Linked DNA regions of Homo sapiens: regions 2 and 3 are each linked to region 1. Evidence: fine-mapped expression QTL. A gene starts in region 1. Each other region holds a variant in brackets. All regions are shown on one strand. Distances are from middle to middle.

Region 1 (8,180 bases):
ATCTCTATGGTAGGGCCCAGATAGGTGTATTTTTTTTTTTTTTTAAGTTCCCCAGGTGATTCTAATGCACACACCTGGTTAACAACCATAGTTAAAAAAATGATGAGGCCAGGCACAGCAGCTCACGTTTGTAATTCCAGCACTTTGGGAGGCTGAGACGGGCGGATCACCTGAGGTCAGGAGTTTGAGACCAGCCTGGCCATTATGGTGAAACCCAGTCTCTACTAAAGATACAAAAATTAGCCAGGCGTAGTGGCGGATGCCTGTAATTCCAGCTACTCAGGAGGCTGAGGCAGGAGAATCGCTTGAACCCGGGAGGTGGAGGTTGCAATGAGCCAAGATTGCGCCACTGCCCTCCAGCCTGGGCAACAGAGCGAGACTGTACAAAAAAAAAAAAAAAAAGATAGAAACATTCTTCAATCAAGAAAACTACAAGTAGACCAAAAAACTCAGGCTTCAGTTTCTTCATTAAATGAGATGGTTGAACTAGATTAGCAGTTGAACTAGTTATTGGTAGTGTTTGGGGGAGGGGAGGTGTTAGCCAAAACACCCTCTGTAACAAGTGAATTTTATTCAAGAAATTCAACAGTAAAACAAAAGCAGAGCTACTTTGGATGGGGGAAGGAAGGTGTGTTGAAGCTCTTCCCTCTCACCCCCAGGTCACCTCAGTGGAATCACCAAAGCTCCACAGAGCACAAGATGGTCTCTCAGAACAGCTGCAGCTTCCAAATTCTTTGACCTTCCAAACCTTGAAATCCACAATTTAAATGGCAGAGATCTTACAGTTTTTGTTTTCTTATAAACTTCATATGAGAAAATGCCCCCTTTTCTAGTGATATAGCATGCCTTGCTATGTCATCTTCTATTATTTAGAAAGACAAGTGTTATCCTCCTCACTTAAGTCATCACTGAAACCCAAGCTCCAGTTTCCTGGAAGTTTTAAGCTCAGAAAAGAAGCCTAGACACAAGAGGGCATGCAAAATACAGGTTAGTGTTTGCCCCAGGAGAAGGAAGAATGGGACCAGAGGGGCACAAAAAAGACTTTAAATGTAGCGATGTTGGTTTTGTTTTGTTTTGTTTTTAGAGGAAAGGGAAATATCTCAAATGTTAACATTTGTTAGTTCTGGAATACAATGATGTTTGTTGTACTGTTCTCTGGACTTTCTTGTAGCATTTTAAGATTTTCAGAATTAAAATACACACATACACACACACTTGTTTATTAGCACCACTTCAAACACCCTTTTTATTAAACGTTAATTACAAATATTTCATTATCCCTCACTTGACTTTTCCACCAAAGCTCACTTATAGAATACATGATCTATAATTACATCTACCCTGGGACTCTGCAAAAGAACACAAGCACCAGAACAAAAGAAATGAATCACTGATAACAAAATGACACTCTAAAATTAAGACCACAAGGTTGTGGGGCATCTGAAAAAGGAAAAGAGCAGCTTTACATTCACTTCACAAAGAATGCAGAGGATGCTGACTCTGAATATTGCCAAACAGATGGACCTACACCAACAGCACCACGCTTCTAAGCCTCCCAAACCAAGCAGCCACTCCGCAGGTCATAGGAGGAGGAGACTCAATTCATATATAAATCAAAATTCATGAAGCATAAGTGAAACATTAAAGCCAATAACTTCAAATCCTAAAAATGCTATTTCCACCCCACAGTTGGTAACGCCCAAAACATGCACAATAAGCATAAGACTGAACAATAGAAACCTGGAAAACCGTTCAGTACACTTAAATGCCCATCACAGTGATTCATGATAAACTCTCATCAAGGCTACTTATTGCCATAAATAAATACCCTACCTATACTTATTCCCTCAACCACCAGCTTCCCAGTTACATCTATAACATACTCAAATAAATCTTTTCTTTTTTTTCCCCCCACCAAAAACAGGAGTTTTGTCACCCAGGCTAGAGCACAGTGGTGAGAGCACGGCTCACTGCTGCCTCGACCTCCCGGACTCAAGTGATCCTCCCTCCTCAGGCTCCCGAGTAGCTAGGACTACTGGCATGCACCACCATGCCTGGCTAATTTTTAAAATTTTTTTGTAGAGATGGGGTGTCACTATGTTGCCCAATCTGGTCTCAAACAGCTGGGTTCAAGTGATTCCCCCCCACCTCGGCCTCCCAACGTGTTGGGATTACAGGCATGGACCACTGTGTTCAGCCTCAAAGCAATCTTTATTTGTATTCACACTATTATCAGTTCCCTTCTCTTAATCTTCTCTCCAGCCAGCCAATCTTTACCTCTTCGCTTCTTCCAAATGACAAAGGTACTCATAAGCCACGTTCTGACGTCTCCTTTCATCCATCTCCTCTGCAGTAAGTCTTTCATTATCCAGGACAGCTACAACATAAAAGAAAGAATGTAAACACCAGGATCTGTAGCCTTCCTGAGTGATAAAAGATTGCCACAGAATCAATTTCCTGCCACTCACCTAGAAAGTCAGGATAACTAATGAGTGTGTAGCCAGCCAGGTGTACTACAATGACTTTCTTAAAAAAAGAACTATGTGGTTTCAACTATAATCATCTTGACCTTTTTAAAAATGTATGATAATATAAATATGTACTAAGTTTCAGTGTAATCTTGAAAAATACTGTCTTGAGATTTTGGCACAAATCTGTCCCTATCTGCCAGAACTCCTTCTAAATACAGATCTGATAATATTGTTTCCCTCTTTTATTAATGACCAAAGCCAGCAGTTATTGAGACATAAGTGGCAGTAATTGTACGAAGCATTTTACACGCATTCTCTCATTGAAACCCCACAACAATCCTGTGATTATCACTCCTATTTTACAGACGAAGAAACTGAGGCTGGGTGAACTCAGCCCCATGGCAAATAAGTGACAGGGCCTGAATCCAAACCTGGAGAGTCTGTCTCCAAAGCCTGAGCTTAACCTTGAAGCAATCTGCTTCCTTCATGGGCACCAGGTGTGGAATAAATTCCTAACTCCTTGGGAAGGCATTCAAGGCCTTTCCCAGTCTGGTCCCAACTATTTTTGGAAACTCTCCTCTTCCCTTCCTCCCACCACTGTGCAGTCTACATCACTCAGTTCCCAACACAGTATCCCTCTACTTTCAATACCTTTGTTTATGCTCTTCCCTCAGGTCCTGTCTCTTGTTCCACATGCCCTATCAAACTTTTTTTTTTTTTTTTTTGAGACAGGGTCTTGTTCTGTCACTCCGGCTCGAGTGCAGTGGCACAATCATGGCTTACTGCAGCCTCGACTTTCTGGGCTCAAATGATCCTCCTACCTCAGCCCCAAGCAGCTGGGACCACAGGCATGGGCCACCACGCCTGGCTAATTTTTTTTTTTTTTTTTAAGAGATGGAGTCTCACTGTGCTGCCCAGGCTGGTCTCAAACTCAAGGCCTCAAACTATCCTCTCACCTCGGACTCCCAAAGTGCTGGGATTACACGCAGGAGTCACTATGCCTGGCCACCTGTCAAACTTTCTACACAGCATTCTTCAAGGCTCTGTTCAAATGTCACCTTCAGGCCAGGTGCAGTGGCTCACACTTTGGGAGGTCGAGGCGTGGGGATCATTTGAGATCAGGAGTTTGAGACCAGCCTGACCAACACAGTGAAACCCTGTCTCTACTAAAAATACAAAAATTAGCCAGTGTGGTGGCCGACGCCTGTACTCGGGAGACTGCAGGAGAATCGCTTGAACCTGGGAGGTGGAGTTTGCAGTGAGCTGAGATTGCACCACTGAACTCCAGGCTGGGCGACCAGAGCAAGACCCCCTGTCTCCAAAAAAAAAAAAAAAAAAGTCACCTCCCGTGCTCATACTGTCTTCCCCAGGCCCCTTCTCCTTACCTACATTACTCTGTATGGCTAGTAAGTTCAGCATCTTTTATCATTATTGCACCTTATAATCATTAGCTTGCACACCTGACTCTCTGATTAAAACGCTCTTTGGAGACAGGGCCTGATCTTACTCATCTTTAATTTCACAAACGTGGCACAATACCTCACGTATAACTGTTGATGCGTGAAATGTTGATCCTTTAAAAAAGAACATTATTCCCACAATATAAAATAAAACCGAAAACCTCAAAATCCCAAAGGGTCCTCCTTTAGCCAATCCTGCCTGCAGTTCAATGACGTCCAGGGCCGACAACAGAAAATGAGGAAGTCAGAGGATTTTCTGCTTCTTTTTTTTTTCTTTATTACTATTTTACTTTTGAAATCTTGAGGAGGGAACTAAGCCCGAGAAAACTGAAGTGACTTGCCCAGGACGGCACCTCGTAGCTAGCCTGGGACCGGACAGGTCTGGACCCTGGTCTATCCCTTGGGTCTACCCCGCAGGCAACACTAGGGCAGCGCCTTTCCACGAAACGGGCAGAGCCCGCGTACCCAGACCCCCAATCCCCGGGACACGCCCTGCGCGGTCATCCTGCCACCTCACTCTAGGCCGTCTTCCCCAATCTCGGCCGAGCCTGGGCGGCGAGAGGCGCTGGGTGGGGCTCCCCCTACCGCGGCCCCAGCTAAGGCGGGAGGCCTCGGGGGTCCTCTCCGCCGCCTCGGACCCCGAGGGGGCGCGAACCAGGGGCCTCCCCGCCCGCCGCCCGCCGCCCCACCGGGACGGCTCTTCCGGGTCCGAGCTGCCGGCAGCCGCCCTGCCCCACCCGCCCGGCCGAGCCCCCAGGAAAATCGCGCCTCGTCTGCAATTAGCCCAGCCCGAAGCCCCCGCGCCGCGGAGCCCCGCACTCACAGCCATAGTGCGGCCGGGCCACGCCCAGCCCGTCAACCTCGTCTGCGGCGGACATGGCGGACGAGCCCGAGTCTCTGCTGAGGAAGCCGTGAAACCTTGGAGGCGCGGACGGCGGTAGCTACAGCTCCTGCCAAGTGCGCGGGCTTGCCGGGGTCCCCGAGGCCCCGCCCCGTGCCGTCAGCCCCACCCCGCAGGCCCCGCCCCAGCGGCACCGCCCCAGCGACACCGCCCTGAGCGGCCGGAAAGAGGCGGGGCCAGAGTCACCGTGCCCCGCCCCTAACTCCGCCCCCTCAGCCCGGCCCCGCCCTGCATCCCGCTATGGTCTCCGTAGGCGGAAGGAAGAAGGTAGAGCCCATCCTCCAATCGGGCTCACGCTGAGCTTGCCCTGCCGGGAATGCCCGCCCAGGTTTATAGCCCCGCCCCCAAGGCCACTGCCCTATCCGCAACTCTAACCGAAAGGCTGCCGGTGTCTGCTGCCTGAAATCAAAATAGTGGGTCATCTCCCTTCTCTTGCCGGCCCAGCTAACCTCTGCACCAATATTTGGAGAAGACACCCTTTGAGGTGACCCAGGTTGTCTTGTTGGACACAAGCAGGCCCCAAACTGCCATGAAAGCCCTCCAACCCCACTCTCCGCAGTTTGGCAACCTGGCCTCAGTCCTCTTAGATTCGGCAGCAGTCACCAGATTACCCAGGTACCCAGGTATTTGAGATGCGGATGCTAAAGCCGAACTCTGTCCAAATTCCCTACCTTTGGATCCCTTGACATTGTTCTTTGCAAGTTCTTTTTAAAATAACTCTTTTCCCGTATCAGGGATGCCTCTGCCCCCTGCACCTTGTGGCTTGCCCTTCAGATATTGGTATTCAACGGTATTCTGTCCGCAGCCCTCTTCTGTTTATTCTTTTTTCTTTTCTTTCTTTCTTTTTTTTTATTTTCTTTTTTTTTTGAGACGGAGTCTCGCTCTGTCGCCCAGGCTGGAGTGCAGTGGCGCGATCCGGGCTCACTGCAAGCTCCGCCTCCCGGGTTCGCGCCATTCTCCTGCCTCAGCCTCCCGAGTAGCTGAGTCTACAGGCACCCGCCACCGCGCCCGGCTAAGTTTTTGTATTTTTAGTAGAGACGGGGTTTCACCGTGTTAGCCAGGATGGTCTCGATCTCCTGACCTCGTGATCCACCCGCCTCGGCCTCCCACAGTGCTGGGATTACAGGCGTGAGCCACCGCGCCCGGCATTTTTTTTTTTTTTTTTTTTTTGAGACGGAGTTTTGCTCAGTCGTTCAGGCTGGAGTGCAGTGGCGCGATCTCGGCTCACTGCAACCTCCGCCTCCCGGGTTCAAGCGACTCTCCCGCCTCAGCCTCCCAAGTAGCTGGGATTATAGGTGCCCGCCACCACGCCCAACTACTTTTTTTGTATTTTTAGTAGAGGCAGGGTTTCACCATGTTGATCAGGCTGGTCTCGAACTCCTGACCTCAGGTAATCCACCCGCTTCTGCTTCCCAAAGTGCTGAGATTACAGGTGTGAGCCACCGCGCCCGGCCCTCTTCCGTTTATTCTTTGCCTACTCAGTAATCTTTTCTACACTCGCCTATAACTGCTGAGGACCCCTCGATATGTATCACCAGACCAGATCGTCTGGAAGTCCCTCAGTATTTTCAGCTAATGAACACTTTCACCTGTGTATAGGGCAGACACTTCAAATCCCACGTGTCAAATACTGACCCTGCTCCTGCTATATTCTCTATTCACAGAAGTACTCAATTCCCAGTGGGAACACCCCAGGCTCCTTGCCTCGCACCCTACATCCAATCTGTGTTTATTTCTGAGATGTCTACTTTTGTCTCCATCCCTGTTGTGATTACACTGTAGTCGCCCTTCTGCCAACTAGATCCTCACAGTTATCAGGGTGTTCTCTCTAAAGTGCAAATGCAATTGTGTTTCTCTTTTTAAATTTTTTTTTCTATTCCTCCCTTCAAGATAATGGGCCAAGTTCAGCATGATTTAGCATGCCAAATCATAGCCTGACTCCAGATGTTTTGCTCCAGCTATTTTCAATGTATTCACTCTTCCTTCAGACTATTAAAGATACTTGAAAACCTGTAAGAACAAAACACCCCTGTAGAAAAGTGGGCAAGGGTTTCATTTATTAAGCCTACAAAGTAAAAAGTTATTTCATTCTTAAGCTTTTAAGTTCACTTTACAAATTGTATTATTCTATTTATAAGTCTAGCACATTTTACCAAACACTTTTCAGAAACTGAATGATTTATTTATTTCGGAGGCGGGGGGGTCACATTTTTATTGGGGGCCACAGGGGACATGGTCTTCTCCATGTCAATGGAAGTGCTTGCAGTTTCTTCAACCACTCCATGCTTGGGCCTTGGGGGTGGCTGGGCATGTCCAGCATGTTCCCATCATCTCGGAGGGGCACTGGGTTGTTGTGGGGCGTGGCCTAGTTGATCCTGGTGGAGTACATGGTATAGGGGCAGACTGGGGTCAGATTTATAGCTAGGCCCCCGATGGTGAGGAACAGGACCAGCACCCGCTCCTTAGGCCAGGCATTCTTGAGAAAGGCAGCCGCAATGGCAACGAGGACATAGAGCATTCTGAAATTTCCTGAAAATTTTTTTTTAAGTCTCACTCAGTTAATTCAACATCTTCAAATATTTAAAATTATGCCTACTAGGGCAGGCACAGTGGCTCACACCTGTAATCCGAGCACTTTGGGAGGTCAAGGTGGGTGGATCACCTTAGGTCAGGAGTTCGAGAGCAGCCTGGCCAACATGGTGAAACCCCCGTCTCTACTAAAATACAAAAAAATTAGCTTAGTATGGTGACACACGCCTGTAGTCCCAGCTACTCGGGAGGCTAAGGCAGGAGAATCACTTGAACCCAGGAGGCAGAGGTTGCAGTGAGCCGAGATTGTGCTCCTGCAATCCAGCCTGGTTGACGGAGCGAGACTGTCTTTTAAAAAATAATAATAATTGCCGGGCACGGTGGCTCACGCCTGTAATCCTAGCACTTTCGGAGGCCGAGGTGGGCGAATCACGAGGTCAGGATATTGAGACCATCCAGGCTAACACGGTGAAACCCCAGCTCTATTAAAAACACAAAAAAAAAAAAAATTAGCCGGGCATGGTGGCGGGCACCTGTATTCCAGCTACTCGGGAGGCTGAGGCAGGAGAATGGCGTGAACCCTGGAGGCGGAGCTTGCAGTGAGCCAAGATCATGCCTCTGCACTCTAGCCTAGGCAATAGAGCGAGACTCCATCTCAAAAAAATAAATAAATAAAAATAAAAAATAATAATAAAGAATAAATTGTGCCTATTATATTGTCTATATTAGATTTCCTATTACATTTTCTTTTTTTTTTTCTTTTGAGATGGAGTTTCACTCTTGTCACCCAGGCTGGAGTGCAATGGTGCAATCTCAGCT
Region 2 (8,180 bases), 260 kb before region 1:
TTGGGAGGGGGAAGGAGCTAGGAAGTGGTGGTGAGCTCATTTCCTTATCCTAAATCGTAGGTTGTCAAGAGATGCCATCTATAGTTGAAACATGCTGAAAGAATGAATCCAGCTGCTTAATATTTTTCTTTCCTTTAGAGAAATAATTTAGAACCAGAAGAAGCAGCGTCATTATTTGCAGCTTGGTAATTTCTTTAGTTACATTTAAGTTGCCTTTTGTTCTGTTAAATTTAAGTATGGCACTTTTTCTAAAAAGAGTATGTATTGTATGAGCCCATTTTGGTTAAAAAAACTCCTTTGAATATGTGCGTAGAGAGATGTCTCCATCCATGTTTCCTGGGTGTCAGCCATGATTATTTCTGGGGTGCTGGATTTCCGGACCACTTGAAATTTTTGTTTTTGGTACTCTTCGGTGTTACTTGAATTTCTTATAATGAGCATGCACTATTTTTATCAGAGCAAAGCTTTTTTAAAAAATTAAAATACATGTCTGGAAAAGAGAGAGAGAAAAAAAAAACACGTGTTCCTTTGCCAGGCTTCTATCTCACTGGGATCCGTGGGGACCCTTCCCAGAGGGGCTGCTCAGAGCCCACCTCTGCAGGGTGAAGGGTGCGATTCATTTCCGCACCCCTCACCCTGGTGATGGGCGTAGTCGGGGGCCGGGGGTGCACAGGGGAGGGAAACTTGTGAGCAGATCCTGAAGGATGCACTTTGGAGCCCTGGGTTCTGGGCTGGTGAGGTCAGGAGGCCTTGATGTGAGGCCCACTGGGTCCAGGCTTTGTGCCTTCACTGTTTAGTTGGGTGACAGAGCCTCTATGGGCCTGTTTCCTCTTCTGTAAACTCAAGAAGTCATCCTTGGCTAGGGGCAGTGGTTCACGCCTGTAATCCCGGCACTTTGGGAGGCCGAGGCAGGTGGATCACCCGAGGTCAAGAGTTTGAGACCAGCCTGGCCAACATGGTGAAACGCTATCTCTACGAAAAATACAAAAATCAGCCAGGTGTGCTGGCACATGCCTGTAATCCCAGCTACTCGGGAGGCTGAGGCAGGAGAATCACTTGAACGCGGGAGGCGGAGGTTGCAGTGAGCGAAGATCACACCACTGCACTCCAGCCTGGGCGACGGAACGAGACTCTGTCTCGGAAAAAAAAAAAAAAAAAAAAAAGAAGTCCTCCATGCCCTGCCTCGTTTTCAGGTTGATGTGAGGGATGTGTGTGGTGCTGTCACAGGGTTCAGCCTGGGAGGCCACATGGATTCCTGGCTTCATGCAGGAATTCAAAAGTAAGCTGACAAAGTGATAGCAAGTTTATTAAGAAAGTAAATGAATAAAAAAGGGGCTACCCCAGCAGCACGGGCTGCTCGACTCAGTAGACTTATGGTTATTTCTTGATCATACGGTAAATAAGGAGTGGATTATTTATGAGTTTTCCAGGAATGGGGTGGGAATTTCCTGGAACTGAGGGTTCCTCTTCCTTTTCGACCATATAGGGTAATTTCCGTACGTTGCCATGGCACTTGTGAACTGTCACGCGCTGCTGGGAGTGTCTTTTAGCAACTAATGTATTATAGTTAGTGAATAATGAACAGTGAGGACAACCAGAGGTCACTTTCGTCATCATCTTGGTTTTGGCGGGTTCTGGCAGTTTCTTTATTGCATCCTGTTTTATCAGTGTGATCTTTGTGATCTGTATCTTGTGCCTATCTCCTGTCTCCTCCTGTGACTTTGAATGCCTAACCTCCGGGGAATGCAGCCCAGCAGGTCTCAGCCTCATTTTACCCACAGCCCCTGTTCAAGATGGAGTCACTCTGGTTTGAATGCTTCTGACGGTGCAGTGTCTGGTAGTCTGGGTGGTCACTAAGGATACTTATTACTCCATATCATACAATTCAATTCTAGCCAACACCACTGCCAGCCCAGTTCAAGGGCTAAAGTTGAGGGGGTCCGGGGCTCTCTGTCCTGTTCTGGGTCCTAAGAGCCACTCTTATAGTTGCAGCTCCACCTAGTGTCCACATGAGGACATAGCAGCATATAGCTGGTTTATTGTAAACCCCAATTTCCATACCTGCCTACCATACAGCTTTATTAGGTAAAATGGACCAAAAAGATCTTTTTTTATTTTTATTTTTAATTTTTTTTGAGACAGAGTCTCGCTCTGTCACCCAGGTTGGAGTGCAGTGGTGTGATCTCTGCTCACTGCAACCTCTGCCTGCTGGGTTCAAGCAATTCTCCTGCCTCAGCCTCCCCAGTAGCTGGAATGACAGACGCCCACCCGGATAATTTTTGTATTTTTGGTAGAGATGGGGTTTCACCATGTTGTCTAGGCTGGTCTCGAACTCCTGACCTCAGGTGATCCTCCGGCTTCAGCCTCCCAAAGTGCTGGGATTACAGTCATGAGCCACTGTGCCTGGCCCAAAATAAGATCTAAAATCATTCCTTCCAGATCGAAAATTTAGTATTTCAAAACAAGTATACAAATTCAGTACTTTTCAAGATTAAAGTATCCTGTGTTTGAAAAGATGGCACAGGAGGAGGGGTGAGGAGAAGGAGGGGTGTGGAGGAGGAGGGGTGAGGAGGAGGAGGGGTGAGGAGGAGGGGTGTGGAGGATGAGGAGGGGTGTGAAGGGGGAGGGGGAGGGGTGTGAAGGGGGAGGGATGTGGAGCAGGAGGGTTGAGGAGGAGGGATGTGGAGAGGAGAAGGGGTGAGGAGGAGGGGGGTGAGGCGGAGGAGGGGTGTGGAGGATGAGGAGGGGTGTGGAGGAGGAGGGGTGAGGGAGGTGTGAGGCGGAGGAGGGGTGTGGAGGAGGAGGGGTGTGGTGGAGGAGAAGGGGTGAGGGGGAGGGGTGTGGAGGAGGATTGTGGAGGAGGAGGGGTGTGGAGGAGGATTGAGGAGGAGGGGTGTGGAGGAGGATTGTGGAGGAGGAGGGGTGTGGAGGAGGATTGTGGAGGAGGAGGGGTGTGGAGGAGGATTGAGGAGGAGGGGTGTGGAGGAGGATTGAGGAGGAGGGGTGTGGAGGAGGATTGTGGAGGAGGAGGGGTGTGGAGGAGGATTGTGGAGGAGCAGTGGGTGTAGAGGTGGAGGAGGGCTGTGGAATTTGGAGGGGTGTGGAGGAGAAGGAGGGCTTTGGAGGAGGGGTTGGAGGAGGAGGGGTGTGGAATAAGAGGAGGATTGTGGAGGAGGAGGGGTGAGGAGGAGGGTTGAGGAGGAGGAGGATTGTAGAGGGGGAGTGGGTGTGGAGGAGTTGGGGTGTGCAGGAGGAGGAGAGGTGAGGAAGAGGAGGTGTTTGGAGGACACCTGGTCTCCAGCTCCATGGCGGTGATGGGGGCTGAGCTCCAAGAGAAGGAAGCTGCTGTCAACAGTTCGGAAGAATTTGCGGATTTTTCGAGCCCCTACTGTGTGCCAGGTGCTGGGGAAGTGGCATACAAGTAAACATGCCCCTGTGCTTGCAGAGTTTGGAGCCCTGTGGGGAAGCTGGATGTCAATTGCAGGTGGACCCGGATCTCCAGAAAACAAGGGGTGGGGTGGGCATGAGCACTGGCTGATAGGCAGGTGGGGAGAGGGCTAAGTATGAGGGTCGTCTGCTTGGAGGGCTGGAGAAGTTGGTTTGGGAGGTCGATGGAAAGAAGATGATGGTGGAGGGGGAGGATGATAGGAGACAGGCATGGCCTGGGTGGTAGAATATGCAGAAAAGCCTTACTGGAGCCAGAGAGGATTTCGGAGGGGAGAGAGTGGCCAAAGGGTCAGGATGCGGCTGACATCAGAGGGCCTTGGACAGAGGCAGGAGAGTAGGGAATCCTGGAGGGCTCCCTGGGGCTGCGGGCAGAAGGAGGCTGAGCAGGAGTGCTCCTCCAGGAGAGGCAGGACACAGGGCTGTGGCATGAGGGGTAGCCGGCGGGGAAAGGAGAGTTTTCTGTTTGTTCTGAGGAAGGAGACTGGGCATCTTCACAGGCTGATGGGGAGGTGCCATCAGAGAGGGCTAAGTAGAAGGCCCTAGAACATCAGCAAGTCCTTGCGGAAGGTCAGGTTGACGTGGAAACAGGACCTCGTAAGGCATAGGGACGCTGGGGAAGGCGCGACGGGCCATGGGACGGAATGGGGAGCAGCTGGGACACGGCGGGAGCTGGCCCAGGTGGCCTGGATGGGAGGCAAGAAGGCCTCATGTGGTCTGATGAGCCTTGAGGAGAGGAGGGCGTGGGTGCCCCACGTGGCAGGAGAGGGCTGGGTCAGCACAGCCTGGAAGTGCTGGTTCTTCCCGCAGGGCTCCCAGCAACAGAAAGCTCAGCCCGAGTGACGTGGTGGCAGGTCTTGAGGAGGAAGAGTGGCGTGGTGGCAGGAGAAGGGGCCTGGGGGTGCCACGGAGGCCACGAGCCAGGTGGGCCCGGGCAGAAGCAAGGGAAGCTAGGAGAGGACGGGCAGGCTGAGAAGAGGGGACACGGAAGAATTCTCAGTGCGGTCAAAGAACAGGGTGTGTGTAGACCAGAGTGGA[A/G]ATGGGGGCTCAGGAAGTTAAAGTCAGAAACAGGATTTCCAGGTAGGATTTCAGGAGACAGTCACCTTTATGACAAGTGCTAGATGTGGCTGTTCGCGTTGAACCCTGCTGGGATGGGGGTCTGGGGAAGGGACAGGGCTAGAGGCCAACCCAGGACAGAGTATCTGGTGGAGGAAGGGCCGTGGGCAGGGGTGTGGAGCGGGTGCTGGCTGTGGGGGCAGGAGACCCAGCTGCCTCCAGCTAAGGGAACTGAGTGCCCCTTCACGTATCACAAGAAGGCCTGACCCACAGCTGGTACAGGGCCTGCCTTGCCAAGGCTCCAAATCCTAGCTGCAGGCTGAGCCGTGCAGGAGGCGGTGAGATTAAGGCTCCCCACCAACCCCTCACCCAAGTGAAGAAAAACACCACCAAATGCAGAGACAACCTCATTGTGATGCTTTTAATTACAAAAGATGTAAAATGATGCATTATAAAACTTGGAAGCAACTTTATACAAATTCCAATTTTTAAATATGGTTGAACAGGGTGCCCTGGGGGTTAGGACACTGGCAGGAAGTCTGATTAGTTGCTGGGATGGTCCCATCCATGAAGCACTGGACACATGCTGGGAACCATCTGTGCATAAATCAGAAGAGCCAACAAGAGTGGGAACAGGAAAGGTCTGCAAATACGCATATGGACTTGAAGATACAACACCAGCTCAGGTAATATACAGCAGGCGGAGGAGAAATGAAACAGGAGAAACAGGACAAAGGAGAATTCATGACATGATCAAGAAACCCCTTCTCCTAACCCCCTATGTCCTAAAACCCACAACCATACAGAAAGAAAAAATGGAAATGCAGACAGGTTTTTAGTTCTATGCTGTTTAACTGCTGTAAGTGAGAGTAGTACAATGGTCGATTTCTTGTGACAAAACTAAATAATGAAAAATAGTTTACTCTGAAGTATGCAGCTGCTTCAAATGCTGAGGACCACAACTGGTTTTGTTACAAAGGCCGCAGTGAGTGCAGGCTCACGTGCTGTGGGCCAGGGCGACCCTGCCCGTGGTGAGTCCTCCACACCTTCTAGGCAGAGTGGGTTGTACGATGCCCAAAACCTTTCACAAGAAAAGATCGGACTCACTCATAGACCTAAGGACAAATTGAATTCAGTGCTAAACCATATTGCCCCCAGTGTACACCCCCAATAAATCACTTCCCCGGAGGTCTGTTTTCACAAGTCACCTGGAGAACGCCTTTGGGGCAGTAGGGTTCACTGTGTAGGTCTTGGGGTCTCTGTTGCCAGGCAGGGTGGCTGCTGTGCAGACAAACTGAACTGGGACCCGGATATGACGATACCCATGGGTAAGGCACTATGTGAAGAGTGACTATGCTGAGACCTCTGTTTTATAAAAACACAATTCTTGAAACATCAGCACCATCGCCTGTTGAGAGTGAGATCAGGTTTGGAAGCCCTTTGACACAGGAGCTGGTTTCTTTTGGCACATGGGGTGCTGGGTAGCATTGCGACTGAAGGCTCTTTAACAAAAAGCCACCCCCTCTGAGATCTTGAGCACAAAGGGATCTGAAAGTGTAACTGGGAACAGGGCAGGCCAGCAGGCCCTTCCTGAGCTGGAAATCAGGCGAGGAGGACTCTGGTTTGATTTCCCAATTCCACAGCAAAGATTTGGGGCAAATGTGAAACAGGAATACTTGGATTCCAGAGGAAGGTGGAGGGGCACCCCATGAGGGTTATTTTAAAGATGAGAGGCAAGGTCAGAAGATAGAAATGGAATGAGGTCGGGAGAGGCTAACCAGCCCAGGGTCTTGTGACCACGACTCCTTTTACATAAGGGACAGGTGTGCCAGATTCAGACCCTCATTGTACAGCCTTGCTCCTCTGGGTGGAACAGTCCAGCAACCCTCAGTACACTCCAGGGTCTCCTGGAAGGGCAATGGCTGTCCAAGCAAAGGTCCTGGCATCTTCCGTCTCTCCTTCAGGGTTCTCCTCCTCTCCACCCTGTCCTCTCACAGCCTAGACCCCCCCCTCCCCCTGCAGTGCTCTGCCCCCTTCAAACCTACTGGCATCACCCAAGTTAGAGGAGGCAGGCGGTGGTGGAAATCTGGCCCATCTATTTTATGAGAAGGTATTGATGACTAATGATGCTTCCATGAATTAGGCCTTCGTTTTACTATAAACTATTTTTTCAACCTCAAAGAATGAATCTCTACTTGAAGCAATTTAGAGCCAAACGTGGATCTGAGAAGGAAGATCTTCCTGGGTGGGGCCCAGCCAGGATGCTCAGGGCACTCACCTGCTCAGCCCTTCCGGATGTACTCAGAAGACAGCTCCCACCCACCCGCGTGGAGCACAGCCCAAGGAGAATGCAGTGCCCGGCTTCACTGTGATTTGGTCACCTAGTGTTAAAAGCATATTAAAGTGCATGCTTCACCATAGGCACGAGTGCTAGAAAAGCTAAAGCTCTGAGAAGATCTGGCAGGGAAGGGGATAGCTACAGGTGAGCCTGCCTTACGGCATGGCGGACGCACTCATTCATCATGCGCTGCACGCACGGTTCTGCAGCACTCACTCCAGCACACGACTGTGCTGCCACGCACGTGTTAGGTGCTACGGGTTCAACAATGATAAGGCACTGTCCCTGCCCTCAAGGAGCTTACGGTCTAGGGGGGTGACATTAGACTCCCAGCCCACAGAGACACAGCTCTGGGGAGGGATGGGGAAGCTCAGTTGCTCGGTGGGTGGGGTTAGGGCCTCACCAGCTCCCTCTGGCTGCTCTTAGTGGGGAGGTCTGTGCTTGTCTGGAGTTTGTCTGGAGGCCACTGAGTATGAGACACCTGCAGTCCCTGTCTTCCTTCCCCAGCCCCCGAGGAGGAGCACAGTTCTCTTCAGGCTCATCAGTGCCAGGGGACTCTTTTCAGTGACTGATAAAATGGTCTTCCTCTTCCTCTGGTCCATAAGGAAAAGGTGTACTTTTCTGAAGCAGCAGAAACCAGCTGGGAGAAAATGAAAATTAGCCTTCAGTCTGCCTAACTCAAGCCTGCCCTCGGGCTTGTGGTAAAAACTTCATGTCGTAATCCAGGCGTGGGAGAGAGCCGTGGGGTCCACTCAGCCTGGGAATGTCCCCCGCTGGAGGGCCTCGCCCTCTGGGTCAGGTCAGAGCAGGCATCGAGGTGCCCTCTCCGGTGCCGCCGCCCCAGGCCGAGCCTCCCACTCCGGGCCCGCCTTCGGTGCGGACGGAGATCAGTGGTTCTGAGCACACTACACAATGCTACGGAGGCCTCCAGTGACACAGTATTTCCTACTCTTACACATCGGCTGACTGGATGGCCAGTAAAAAGATGCAGTGGAGGTGAGCTTTCCAGTTCATGGGAAGCTCCAAGCAGCCTGCCTGCTGCAACACGACTTTGGCCACAGGCGGGAGAGGCAGTACAAAGCTGTGTGATCTGGAGGAAGCCACAGTGTCTGAGATGGGATCTCATCTGAAACCCTGGAGCCGTGGCATTGCTTCCTTCTATGTCAAGATAACGAAAGCCCGTGGTATCAGCTGGCTTCATTCTATTCCATTCTATTTTGGCTGTTGCAGAAAAACATTCTTCTGTTCCACTGCCTTCTGTTCACAGTCTGTCAGCTCGAAACGTCTCTTCAACAGAGGGGTCCAGCAGGCCCATGCTGGAGTCACTTAACATGTTGAGTCC
Region 3 (8,180 bases), 50 kb before region 1:
ATTGACTTTGTTTATATTGCCTTGAATTTCAGCTTGCGTGAGCAGCTCCTCATAAACATCTCTTTCTCTCTCTGAGTTTTCTGTCTGAGGATGAGTAAAAAGCGTAATTAAGTTAGCTTAAGGTGTCTAAGAAGACCACATAAATACACGTGTGCTCCTCCTGCACCATAACACTACCAAGAATATGGGTGTAGCTTAAGACCCTTTATAAAGAACAAAGCAGGCACAGTAACTCATGCCTGTAATCCCAGTGCTTTGGAAGGCCAAGGTGGGAAGATGGCTTGAAGCCAAGAGTTTGAGATCAGCCTGGGCAACATAGCGAGACCCCATCTCTACAAAAAACTTTTTTTTATTAGCCCAATGTGGTGGCACATGCCTGTAGTCCCAGCTACTCAGGAGGCTGTGACAGTAAGATTGCTTTCCCCAGAAGTTCAAGGCTGCAGTGAGTTATGACCGTGCCACTGCACTCCAGCCTAGGTGACTGAGCGAGATTCTGTCTTTTTTTTGAGACAGAGTCTCACTCTGTCACCCAGGCTGCAGTGCAATGGCACCATCTTGGCTCATTAAAAACTCTGCCTCCTGGGTTCACGTGATTCTCTTGCTTCAGCCTCCTGAGTAGCTGGGACTACAGGCGTGCACCATCATGCCCAGTTAATTTTTTTGGTATTTTTAGTAGAGATAGGGTTTCACCATATTGGCCAGGCTGGTCTCAAACTCCTAACCTCAAGTGATCTGCCCGCCTTGGCCTCCCAAAGTGCTGGGATTAGGGGCAGCACATCCTTGCCTCAGATCTGAGCAGAATGGGCACATACAGATCCACAATCCTGGAGTCTCACTGGTGACATAGGCAGAGGCAGGGCAGCAGCTACTTGCCTGCAGGCCAGTTTGGCACCTAACTGGGAAACTGAAATCCCTGCTCTATGATAAGAGATACAAAGAATGTTCTGAGAGCAGGATTGTCTTCGTTTTGTCATCAACCACTAATTTTAACAAGGGGTGGATAAATTTGTGTGAAGTTTTTTTTTTCCCCCCCGAGACGGAGTCTCGCCCTGTCTCCTGGCTGGTGCAGTCTTGGCTCACTGCAGCCTCCACCTCCCAGGTTCAATAGATTCTGCTGCCTCAGCCTCCCAAGTACCTGGGATTACAGGAGCCCAACACAACGCTGGGCTAATTTTTGACTTTTAGTATAGATGGGATTTCGCCATGTTGGCCAGGCTGGTCTCAAACTCCTGACCTCGGGAAATGAGATCCTCAGATTCAGTTTTTTCAAGTCAGAATCATTTAACTAACTTCCACATACCCATAACAACTGTACACAAACATTTTACCCCAGAGAATCTGGGAAAGAGGAAAGACTATGTTAATATTTAGAGATAATCTTTCCAAAGGGCACTATTAATTTTAATGGCTACGCTCTAGAATTTTATTTATATAAAATTCAAGAAGCAGAGGTCAAAATGGAGCCTCACACCAAAAGATTAGATACTGCATCATTCCATTTGTATAAAATTCTTAAAAAGGTCAATGGCAGCAATAGAAAATAGACTGGTAGTTGCCTGGGCTCAGGGGTGTGGGTAAGGTGGAAACTAATTGCAAAAGTGCACTAAGGAACTTTCTGGGAGTGATGGTTAAATGATCACATATACTTTTCAAAACTCAAACTGTACATTTAAAATCCGGTGAATTTTGTTGTATGTAAACTGCATCTCAATAAAACTGATGTTTAAACTGGAGCCATATCAAATGACGGAATAATATAAATTAATTAGAAAGAATAGATGTTGCATTTTTACCCTGTTTTTAGCATTTGTCATTTTGTCCTGCTTAGCCTGGTAAAGTATATCCTGGTAAGTGGATGCCAAGGGCTCTTCAAGATTTACAAGCATGGCATTCGGATTTTTCAAAGCTGCAAATGTGTCGGCTGGAATTCTACGGTCAATAGCTTCATTAATAGCAATAACAGCAGCATGTACTAAAAAAAAAAACAAAAAAACAAACCAACAAAAACACTGAGATTATATAGATTACAGGATGTATATCACAACAGAAAGCAACATTGCACCCCCCATTAGAGACAGAGGCTCCTTTTCACAGAGAAATAACAACTGGGGTTCGAAGACTGGCTCCCTGGGCCAGGCTATGAGCCTAGCCTCTTCCTTACAGTATGCAAAGCCACAGCTCCATCTGTGATCCATGTCTGGGATGGTGAATTTAGAATCTCACAGAGAAACACTCATAAGAGAGCCTTGCAAGGAACACTTGCTCTGGAGATATCTGCCTTAATTACCAAGTAAACACCATAAAACAATAAGAAACTCAATGAGCCACGGAAATGTAGGACTTCCTTTCTTTTTTTTTCTTTTTTTTTTTGAGACAGAGTTTCACTCTTGTTGCCCAGTCTGGAGTGCAATGGCATGATCTCGGCTCACTGCAACCTCTGCCTCTTGGGTTCAAGTGATTCTCCTGCCTCAGCCTCCCGAGTAGCTGGGATTACAGGTGCACACCACCATGCCCGGCTAAATTTTTGTATTTTTAGTAGAGACGGGGTTTCACCATGGCCAGGCTGGTCTTGAACTCCTGACCTCAGGTGATCCACCCGCCTTGGCCTCCCGAAGTGCTGGGATTACAGGCGTGAGCCACCACGCCCAGCCAGGACTTCCTTTCTAAATGCTTTCACTTTAATCAGAATTAATCATGTATTTCCAAATAATAACAGCATGGAAGACTATGTGTTTACAACTACATCTGTGGACTTAAACTTGCTGGCAAGATTCATAATGTCCTAGATCATCACTATAGAATTAATTATTGGAAATAGTGGCAACAATCCCAGTTGAACCCACAAAATTTCTCTCTTCTTACATGCGGCTTCATCCACTGACAGTTCATTAGCCAAGATGCCCCCAATCTTGCTAAAGGCAGGCATCTGGATGCCATACTTCTCCAACTCAGTCTTCATGTTGTTGATTTCTTCTTCTACAGGAGGGAATTAATAATCAGTCAATCAAGCTAAGCACCCTTCCATAACCAAGAGAAGGAAACATATTCCTCAACTATGCAATGGGATAAAATGGCATTTACCTTTTAGGGTTTTATAAGGATATAAAGATACAATGTATGGAAAGCACTTAACACAGTAACTAGTATATAAAATGTAGTCAAACGTTATTATTATCAAGGGCATCAAAAATAACTATAAAGTGAGAAGGTCCTACAGGAAATAGTTTTTCAAAATTGCTACTTA[T/C]GGCATTTCCTACAATGAACTTATAAATGGAACAGCTTTAACGTGAGCTCAACAATAAGTGAATCACAAACTAAGTCAGTTATCTCAGTCTTTACAATCATTAGCTGCTATTCAACAATTTCATTTCTAAGGCAGAAAGCCAAATGATAAAGAAAACATGTAAGGTCTGGTCCTTTCCCCAGGTCTGGTGAATAACTTCCCTGGAAGGAAAAAATATCATGGACAAAAACTTTCTTACCAATTTTTAAACTTTCAAGCCTACAAAATAATCACCACTTTGAAAGACTTGAATCTATCTTACCCTTAAACAGTATTACCACTGCCCTTTTTCTCCCCAACCCCTCATCTCTTCAAGCATCTGGCTATAGCAAATACACATAGAAACACCCACCCAAATAAGCTTAAATTTTAAAATTACTAAATTGGCATCTTTGTGTCATCTCACTCCCCACTCTCCCTCTTGCTTTGCCCACAACAGATGCTTGCTGGAATGGAAAGGGAAAGATAGTTATAAAGCTTTTTTCAACATACCCGAACATTTAGTGTTATGTGTTAACATTATTATGTTTTATATATGTTAATGTTATCCCCAATTTACATATAAGAAAACTGAGACTCACTAATCATGTTCACATTATTAAGTGAGAGAACAGAGCTTGAAATTTCAAGTTTAGTGTTCTTTACCCCACATTAGAGAAGCAAGTTATTCGTATTTTTTTCACCTCCACTGCCAGTGTATTTTTAAAGCCCTAGGTCTTCAAAATTGGTACTGCTGGCTCTCCAGGCTATTTCCACATAATTCAAGCATTTCCTGCCAAGTATCTAACTCCTTACCTGTGAAGTCAACCTTTCCATATAGGTCTTGAATCTGAGGGGCCAGGCCTAGCTTGAACAGGTACAAACTAGAAGATACAATATGCAAAAGGTTAGGCCTCCCAGCTGTGCCTAGCTGCCACCCTTAAAAGGCGAAAATCAGCATGAAGTATAAAATAGAAGTATTCTGAACACTGAGACTCCCAGTACCTACGACAGTCTCCTTTGTAGTTACAATACGCTATTTACCTCAGTTTTTTTTTTTTAGTTTACATGACAACATTGTCCTAAAAAGTCACATAACACAATGCAAAGAGCACTGGACTGGGAGAAATCAGTAGGCACAAATTAAAGTCCCGGTTCTGGCACAAACTCAATGCATAATTAGATGTTAATGGCCAGGCACAGTGGCTCATGCCTGTAATCCCAGCACTTTGGGAGGCTGAGGTGGGCGGATCACCTGACATCAGGAGCTTGAGACCAGCCTGGCCAACATGACAAAACCCTGTCTCTACTAAAAATACAAAAATTAGCCAGGCGTGGTGGCATGTGCCTGTAATCCCAGCTATTCAGGAGGCTGAGGCAGGAGAATTGCTTGAACCTGGGAGGCAAAGGCTGCAGTGAGCCGAGATCACACCACTGTACTCCAGCCTGGGCAACAGTGTGAGATTCCGTTTCAAAAAAAAAAAAGATGTTAACATTAATGTTAATATAATGTGAAGTGTCTCTTCATTTGTTTGCCTTCCTGTAATCAATAAGTTTTAAATAATAAGACATTTTAGAAAAGCTTCATAAAAATGATTCAGATGGCAAATCTTACTTAAACTGAATTCATATTACTGATGGAAAAGTTTAATCCAGGTAATTTAACAGTTTTAGATAAAGAATATTTCATATATTTTTACTTTTTAATTATCAGGTTGGTGAAAATTATTTTTACTTTTTAAACTTAAAAAAAAATCAACTAGACTCTAAGCTTCATGAAAGCAGGGACAATACAGGGCTCATTCACTAATGTTTACCCAGAGCCTAGCATATATTAATAAACATTAATCAATATTTGACAGATGGATGGACGGATAAATTAATGTCCATAAGCCTGTGTTATTAAGTGGATTCTAAAGCCCTAACTGATCAGAATCAATAAATTAGAAGAGATCAGAAGGGTACTTTACAGATACTGACAAAAGCAAGATATTGACAGTTTAAAGTAAGCAGGGAAATAAGAAATATATAAGAAATAAATCATAGAAACTTAAAGTGGTATACAGTTTTTGTAAATAATCTATAAACCTCAATATCATCTAAATACAAACACGCATCATGTACACTGCAATCACAGAACTGATCAAAATTTAAATTGTATATAATAAACCCAAATGTATAATAGAAAAACAAAAATCAAGTATTCTCAAAACACACTAGAATTTATACATCCACAGAAGCTAAACATTTTCTCAGAGAAGTGCAAGTATAAGTCATGTGTATATGATTAAATGCTTTTCTTTCAGGTAAAAGACTCAAGATGGATATATAAAGCGCCTGTCTCAGAAGATTTTAAATGTATTCAAAAAATTCTCCAGACTGGGTGTAGTGGCTCACACCTGTAATTCCAGTACTTTGAGAAAGAGAGGCAGGAGGATAGCTTGAGGTCAGGAATTCAAAACAGCTTGAGCAACATAGCAAGACTTGTCTCTACAAAAAAAATTTCTTAATTAGCCAGGTATGGTGGTGCATGCCTGTAGTCCTAGCCATTTGGGAGGCTAAGGCAGGAGGATAGCTTGTGCCTGGGAGGTTGTTACAATGAGTCAAGATCACACCTCTGCGTTCCAGCCTAGGCAAAAGAGTAAGACCCTGCCTCTTTAAAAAAGAAATTCCAAAGCAAAATAACTAATAACTTTCTATATATTTTTATACATTTTTATATATTTTTTATATATTTTTCTCACTAATACATCACATCTGCATTCTTAATTAAGAGAATATTTTTCTCCAAGAATTTCTTTCTCATTTATTCCTACTTGGAAATAGCGAACAAGAAATTTTAAGAAAGTTCAAGAATGTTGCTGATATGGTTTGGGTCTGTGTCCCTGTCCAAATCTCATGTCAAATTGTAATCCCCAGGTGGGGGCCTGGTGAGAGGTGATTGGATCAATGGGGGCAGGTTTCCCCCTTGGTGCTGTTCTCCTAACAGTGAGTGAGTTATCGCTAGATTTGGTTTTTTAAAAGTATGTAAGCACCTCCCCACCTCTCTCTTCCTCTTGTTCCTGCCACGTGAGACGTGACTGCTTCCTCTTTGTCTTCTACCATGATTGTAAGTTTCCTGAGGAGGTCTCCCCAGCCATGCTTCTTGTACAGGCTGTGGAACCTTAAGCCAGTTAAACCTCTTTTCTTTATGAATTACCCAGTCTCAGGTATTTCTTTATAGCAGTACAAGAACGGACTAATACAGTTGCTTTCACAGTACCAGGAACACTGACTTAGCTTTTAATGTCTTTCAGTGGTAAATTAAAGGTGCTACAACCGTATCACTGGCTAATATAAAAAGTAGACATGGGCACCATCTTTCTTTTAACTCTCTTTAATTATTACGAGTATTTTATGGAGACACTGGAGCTATGAAAGGATTCAAAACGGCCAGTTAAGTCCTCTTACCCACAATCAAAAGTACTTAGCTTCACACTGAAACTTATAAACCCTAATGGTGAACAGCACTTTCCAATCTTTGCTCCTGCTCTCCCATGCCTACTTCTACAAATATACTGTTAGGCACTATAATGCGTCAGCCTGTAACTGCACTTAGATTTATTTTTCTTATTTCCTACTTAAGCTGTACTTTGTAGCAATGGGCAGAAGGAAGCTATGTTAATCTATCTGGATTCTAATTATCTTTTCTGTGAATGGTGAGTAACCTAGAAGTCACTATGCCAATCTCAAAGATTATTAATAAAGACCCTGAAACACAGCAGGTGATTAGGAAACAGAATCTACTACAGGTCCACAGTCCCTTATCCAAATTCTTGGAGCCAGATATGTCTGAATATTGAATTTCTCAGATATTAGAAAGTGTATTTCTATTTACAGTGTATATGGTATCATAAAGTATCCCCAGCAAGCCCTGGGGCAGCATCCTCAATCCAATCCATTACTTTCTGCAGAGAAACACACAAACATAATCATACTAAGGAGACAAATGAGCTTACACCAAACTTAGTATACAAGTATTTTGAGAATGGAAAACTGGGGTCTTATCTGAGAGTGGAATGTTATCTACAAAAGTAATTTAGTATGATTAAAGTACAGTGACTATCTCTGGAATAATGCCAATCAAGACTTTAGAGGAAAAAAAAAAAAAAAGGCAAGCAGGGAGGAGACAGAGAGGTAGTATTTTTCTGTCACTGTTGATCCAAAGGGAGATGGAGCCTTATCCAATATAGCAAGGTGAGGAACCTGCTTTGAACATGGCTGTGTTTTGTGGTAAAAGAAGGCACTTTCAGCAATTATAAATACTTCCTACATATTATCAAATGTTGCCAATCCACCCTTCAGGAAAAACACCATAAAAAAGAAACCATAAATCACGAAACACACTGCTCTATATATACTTTCTAAGCACAGACTACATATTCAAGAGAAATGGAAAACAATAGCAGACTTCCTCTCTTTCTCATTCTGACTCTACCACTAGGAAGGCATAGTTAATTCTTTAGGCTCTACTACAGAGAATTTGAGGGCCTGGAACCCAGGTTACACTGCAGAGTAGTGGCTACACAACTAGCAGAGAGGAATTCTGCTTCCACGTTCAGATATCCATTGCAGGTAAGGCCTTCACAAGATTATCAACATGGACAAATCTCATGCAACACTAAGCCAAACAAAATACTCAGAATTAATCTGATCTGGACTCAGACACACATATTTGGTAATGTTTTGTTTTGTTTTTTAGAGACAGAGTCTCGCTCTGTCATCCAGGCTGAAGTGCAGTAGCACAATCATAGCTCACTGCAGTCTCAAACTCCTCGGCTTAAGTGATCCTCCCACCTCAGCCTCCAGAGTAGCTAGGACTACAGGTGAATGCCACCATGCCTAGCTAATTTTTTATTTCTTGTAGAAATGGGGTCTC

Evidence for each region.
Region 2: its variant is fine-mapped to the expression of IQGAP1 in cerebral cortex (GTEx, PIP 0.96).
Region 3: its variant is fine-mapped to the expression of IQGAP1 in whole blood (TOPMed, PIP above 0.99). The same link has a PIP of 0.9 or more in blood mononuclear cells, cerebellar hemisphere, cerebellum, esophagus muscle, hippocampus and nucleus accumbens.

Annotation. Positions count from the first base shown.
Region 1 is chr15:90,384,971-90,393,150 of GRCh38, reverse strand. IQGAP1 (IQ motif containing GTPase activating protein 1) reads right to left here and starts at 4,909. Exons shown (of 38, transcript NM_003870.4): 1 at 4,755-4,909; 2 at 2,278-2,377. The coding sequence starts at 4,809. It also overlaps the pseudogene NDUFA3P4. RefSeq lists a silencer at 4,406-5,185.
Region 2 is chr15:90,642,060-90,650,239 of GRCh38, reverse strand. It overlaps CRTC3 (CREB regulated transcription coactivator 3), which reads right to left. Exons shown (of 15, transcript NM_022769.5): 15 at 4,895-8,180. The coding sequence ends at 8,100. The region is part of intron 2 of CRTC3-AS1 (CRTC3 antisense RNA 1); the gene reads left to right. Among named protein-coding and RNA genes, the nearest start is that of LINC01585, 14 kb to the left of the region's middle. RefSeq lists a silencer at 3,453-3,636. The variant A/G (reference allele first, on the strand shown) is at 4,483.
Region 3 is chr15:90,435,298-90,443,477 of GRCh38, reverse strand. It overlaps IQGAP1 (IQ motif containing GTPase activating protein 1), which reads right to left. Exons shown (of 38, transcript NM_003870.4): 6 at 4,079-4,146; 7 at 2,863-2,976; 8 at 1,794-1,972; 9 at 1-84. Among named protein-coding and RNA genes, the nearest start is that of IQGAP1, 51 kb to the right of the region's middle. RefSeq lists a silencer at 6,214-6,414. The variant T/C (reference allele first, on the strand shown) is at 3,245.